Linked DNA regions of Homo sapiens: region 1 is linked to region 2. The links come from fine-mapping of genetic effects on gene expression. Tissue or cell type: whole blood. Region 2 holds a variant in brackets; the other region holds the start of a gene. All regions are shown on one strand. Distances are from middle to middle.

Evidence for each region. PIP is the estimated chance that this variant, and not a neighbour inherited with it, causes the effect.
Region 1: it holds the start of S100A13, and the variant in region 2 is fine-mapped to the expression of S100A13 in whole blood (TOPMed, PIP above 0.99).

What each region holds. Positions count from the first base shown.
Region 1 is chr1:153,626,055-153,628,793 of GRCh38, forward strand. S100A13 (S100 calcium binding protein A13) reads right to left here and starts at 1,451. Exons shown (of 3, transcript NM_001024211.2): 1 at 1,429-1,451; 2 at 266-479. The coding sequence starts at 418. S100A1 (S100 calcium binding protein A1) reads left to right here and starts at 2,380. Exons shown (of 3, transcript NM_006271.2): 1 at 2,380-2,442. RefSeq lists enhancers at 873-1,698, 2,525-2,739.
Region 2 is chr1:153,751,307-153,753,806 of GRCh38, forward strand. It overlaps INTS3 (integrator complex subunit 3), which reads left to right. Exons shown (of 30, transcript NM_023015.5): 8 at 973-1,102. Among named protein-coding and RNA genes, the nearest start is that of SLC27A3, 23 kb to the right of the region's middle. The variant G/A (reference allele first, on the strand shown) is at 946.

The DNA of each region.
Region 1 (2,739 bases), 130 kb before region 2:
CTACTCAGGAGGCTGAGGCAGGAGAATCACTTGAACCCCGGAGATGGAGGTTGCAGTGAGCCAAGATCACACCACTGCACTCCGGCCTGGGCAACAGAGTGAGACTTTGTCTCGAAAAAACAAAAGAAAACCTGCAACCATTGACACATGCAGCCACCCACACCCTTTCTTGTGGTCACCTCACCGTACTCGGCACCATCACGTCCTAAACACAGTGTCCCATAATCATCATCTCACAAAATCTCAGTCCCAGACTTCTGCCTACCTTGAGCAGATGGGGCAACTGCTGGGTAACCAGCTCTTTGAACTCGTTGACGCTGAGGCTATCCTTCCGGCCCTCCTGCCTTGCAAAGGTGAAGAAGGTGGTGACCACGGTCTCAATGGACTCCTCTAGCTCTGTCAGTGGTTCTGCTGCCATTAGGACCCTGAGGCCAAAGCTGATGTCCTCAAGGGGCTAGCTGACCTTTGTCAGGGCTGACCTGTGGAAGAGAGAAGGAGCAGAGAGGGAGAGTCAGGGAGCCCCAAGATGCAGGAATGGTTCAGAAGGTCCCTGCCTTGGTGTTATCACATCAGTCTCAGCCTGGAGGGGGCATATGGGGAAAGAGGGAGAGGACAGGGGTTGAGCTTGGGGCAGCAGACCAGGCAACGGCATCTCAGTTTTGGTGGGGGCAGGAGATTCAGCTCCAGAAACCCCCTCTTCTGTAGGTCTCACAATCCGGGATCCTTTTTAAATGTCTGTGGCTTAGGGACCCCTCTGTGGTGATCCCTCGATCTGGAGACCCCTCTACTTGAGAGGAGGTCTTCAGTTGAAGGTCCTTCTTGGAGTCCTTCAAGTCTGGTGGCCCCTCTGTGGCGTGTCTGTCTCAAGAATCCCTTCTTGTCTCACCCAGACTCACAGGTCATAAGGTTGTTTGTCTCCAAAGCTTGTTTATGTTGGGCCCTGGTCTCCGGCCACTCGCATCCGCCCACACACACTCTAACCGCTCCTCCCAGCAGAGAAGCACAGGGTCTGGCAAATGTCCCCTGTGGTCAGAGCTGGCTCCGTCTGAACAGACCCATTTTCTCTGCCCCGCTCCACCCTTACCTCTCCTCAGCGGCAGCAGGGCAGAGTGCTGAACCCAGGACCCCACAGATCCTCCCCGCTCCTGTCTCCCGGTGACAAGGGTCCTGGAACGGGGCGTCTCTGACTCCCTGCTCCAGGACGGGTTTAGTACAGGCACTCACAACCCCCTGGGGTGCGGCGGGTGGGGCTGGAAGAGGCATTCTCTTTTCTGTCCACCCCGTCACACACTCCTGCACGCGCTGTTGCTCGATCATCCAAAGCTCCTTCCTGAATTCCTGTCTGAGCTGGCTCTGGGGGAGGGACCTGGGAGCCCAGGAAGAAAAAATGATCTCCAGCCTCCCTCCAGGGTCAGCCATGAGACTCACCCGGCAAGGAGATGGGGTAGAGTGAGCTGGAGCCTCAGGGCTGAGGTTTATAAGCAGCGGGGAAGGAGGAGAGAGCTGCTTCCAAGCCCGGAGGTGTCAAATTTCCGTGGTCGATTCTGAAGACCAGAGACAGCCCAATCAGGCCGCTTGCCCTGAGCCCTCAGGTCTGGACCCGGGCTCCCTGCCAGCCACACGAGCGCCCCCACTTGGTCAGGGAGAGGAGCTGCCTGGACAGATCTCGTTCGGCAGGGGTCCCAGGGTCCTAGTCCTCTCAATACTGGGGGCTGCTGCCACCATACCCATGTCTAATCAGGAGTGTGTATGCTGAGGGGGGAAGAGGGAGGCAACCAATCAAGGGAGCTCAACACTGAGAGGCCCAATCTGAGACACACACAGAGGCCCCTTGGAATGAGATCCCACAAAGGATGCTACAGACCAAGATCCCTCAGAGAACCCCAGGCTGAGGCCCCACACACAGAGGGGGATCCAGGTTGAGACCCCCAGAGAAGAGTCCTGGATTGAAATCCCTCTGTGGGTTCTCAGACTCCCAAGACTAAGTTTCTCACTGAGGGTCCTCTCAGTGAGGCCCCATGGAGGAGCCACAGACTAAGACCCCCTCAGCAGAATTCCCCCCTTACCGGGCTCAACCAGCACAGCCAGCCACAGGTACTGCAAGGCCCAGCTTGGGGTAAGACATCCAGTGTCCCTCCCAGGACCTCCTTCCCACCTCTTTCCCCTGCACCATCCACTGCTGCCTGGAGAGAAAGGAACGGGGCAAGCAAGGCTGGGAAAGAGACAAGGGCCGCCTGTTCCAGCCCAGGAGACAGAGGGCGCCTCTGTCTGCTCCTGGCCCCTTGCCCCACAGGGTGTTCGTCTGTGAAGGGGTGGAGTCGGTGGGGGGGTCAGCGGGGGAGGGACTGTTGAAGACAGGTCTCCACACACAGCTCCAGCAGCCACATTTGCAACCTTGGCCATCTGTCCAGAACCTGCTCCCACCTCAGGCCCAGGCCAACCGTGAGTACCCTGCCCCACTGGGCTAGTCCCTGGCCTGCCAGCTTCAGGGAGAGGGGTCTTCAGAAGGGCTCCAAGAGGCTGGGGACCATAGCACTGTGGAGCACTGAGGATCTGGGAGGAGTCAGTCAGGGTGAGGGCAGTTTGGGATTTGGGGGAGACAGGGTTTGGAAGGTGGTGATGAGAGACAAATGAACTGAAGGTCGGAGAGAGAGCTGGCAGCTCAGCAAAGGAGGAAGCCAGTGGGGAACCCACCATGAGCTTCCTGACCGCCTGGCCCTCCCACAGGGAGCCCTCAAG
Region 2 (2,500 bases):
GCAGTGGAGTCAGAAATACCTTGTTAGAGATGAAGGTGCATCAAGATCTGGTGTTTTCCATCATTCATCAACAGATGAGGGTAGAAAGGAGGGGGAGTTAGTGTAAAATAGCCCTAATTCCTAGAAATGCTACCTGTTAAGCTGGCATCTTTGGGATTTCCCTGGTCAGCTTCAAGGATACTGTTGTATACCACAGACATAAGCTGTCCTTGTGTGCCTACCATGACACAGTCCCCCACCTACTCTCCTGGGTAATTCCCATGGTCTAGTGGGATTATGAATTGTCCTCTATCAGACCTCCCATGTGGCAATTAAAAATTTTTTTTACTTTTTATTTTTGTAGATACTGGGCCTTGCTTTGTTGCCCAGGCTGATCTCAAACTCCTGGCCTCAAGTGATCCTCCCACCTCAGTCTCCCAAAGTGTTGGGATTATAGGCGTGAGCCACTCTGCCCAGCCTAAAATTAATGTTAGATAAAAAGTTAAAATTCACTTCTCTAGTTGCATTAGCTACACGTTGCTAATGGGTTTCATTTAGACTACACAGATATAGACATTTCTACCACAGAATCGGACCCACAGAATTAGATACTGCAGAATTTTGTTAGACAAAATAAGTTTGAGGTTAGGGTTTCTGGGGCTCAACTTGCCAGTCCCATCCTTTTGAAACTTTAATCTTCCTTGAACTGGATTGAAACAGTTCTGAGTGGAGAGGGAGGTAGATTAATGTGAAAGCCAGCAGGGCTTCAGCACTTCCCACTAACCTCTCATCCTTGATATCAGTCCCCAGCTTCCAGCTCTCTTCCCCTGAACAGCTAGGAGCCAATCCTTTGGTTCCAGAAGAAATCATAGTTTCTTCAACCCTCTTTCCTTCCCTCCCTAGAACATGTTGTTCCTTTGTCCTCCCTCCAGCAGGTAAACAATCCATGTTTTTATTCTCTTTCCT[G/A]TCCCCCACTTCCTCTTCCCTATCAAGTTCATGGAATGTCTGATGATTGGTCGGGATCTCGTAAGACTACTTCAGAATGTTGCTAGGATACCAGAATTTGAACTGCTTTGGAAAGATATTATCCATAATCCTCAGGCCTTGAGTCCTCAGTTCACAGGTAAGTAGGGTCTTAGGCATCCTGTCCTTGAGAGCTGGGAGTTCAATGTGTATGTCTTGCTTGAATCAAGAAGGTAGAGGTTGGTGGGTAGGAGAGTCTTTGGTGGTCAGATTTAGGAAGCCTGGGACAGGGCAAGCTTTGCCAAGTACAACTGCGAATGGCAGAGGTACAGAACAATTCATGTAGTTCCTAGACAGCCCCTACTTGGCAGACTCCAGCTGCCACATTACTACTAAGAAAAAAGTGAGACAGATAACTGTAGTCCTCCTCCCCTCTTCCTGGCAGCTCCTTGGCTCAGGAGGTGAGCCAGTGGCCAGTGTTCAGCTTCACGGAGTCTAGCAGGGGAGTCAGAGGTCAACTCGTGAGACTGAGTCAGTAGAGGGCTGGAATTAGTCCTGTAAGAGAAGGCCCCTCCCTGGGAACAGTCTTGCCTCGAATTCCAAGGATCCAGCTTGGGCAAAATCCACTTTGGAGGAGGGAGTCTCCGTGTGCCTCCTCCCGACAAGGTCCTTTTTATATCCCTTTCCCTTTCCCAGGGTCCTGCTATGTTCTGAACAATAACTGTACAGCTTTGCTCCCCACCCCACCTCAACACACACGTGCTTGTGATCGTGCATGCACCCGCTCCCCTCCTACACACACACACACACACACACACACACTCACTCTGAAGGCAGTTGTCCAGGACCTGGGAAGTCAGGAAAGAAGAAAGTGCTGGAAATTGTAGTACTCTTATATTGAACATCTATTTCATTGCTTTAAGTGCCTCCACTGTGTTAGACAAACATGTGTTACCTCATTTAATCTTCTGGACAGCCCTGTGAGTATTTTAGTTTCTACATTTATACATAAAGAAACTGAGGTTTGAGGCCGGGCGCGGTGGCTCACACCTGTAATCCCAGCACTTTGGGAGGCCGAGGCGGGCGGATCACGGGGTCAAGAGTTCAAGACCATCCTGGGCAACATGATGAAACCCTGTCTATACTAAAAATGCAAAAATTAGCTGGGCATGGTGGCACATGCCTGTATTCCCAGCTACTCGGGAGGCTGAGGCAAGAGAATCGCTTGAACCCAGGAGGTGGAGTTTGCAGTAAGCCGAGATCGCGCCACTGCACTCCAGCCTGGCGACAGAGTGAGACTCTGTCCCAAAAAAAAGAAAAGAAAAGAAAAGAAACTGAGGTTTAAGGAGATGAAGTAATTTGCCCAAGGCTGTACAGCTGGTAGGTTAGGTGACAGAGGCAGGTCTCTTTTTTTTTTTTTTTTTTGAGACGGAGTCTTGCTCTGTCCCTCAGGCTGGTGTGCAATGGCGTGATCTCAGCTCACTGCAACCTCCGCCTCCTGGGTTCAAGCGATTCTCCCGCCTCAGCCTCCCAGGTAGCTAGGATTACAGGCACCTGC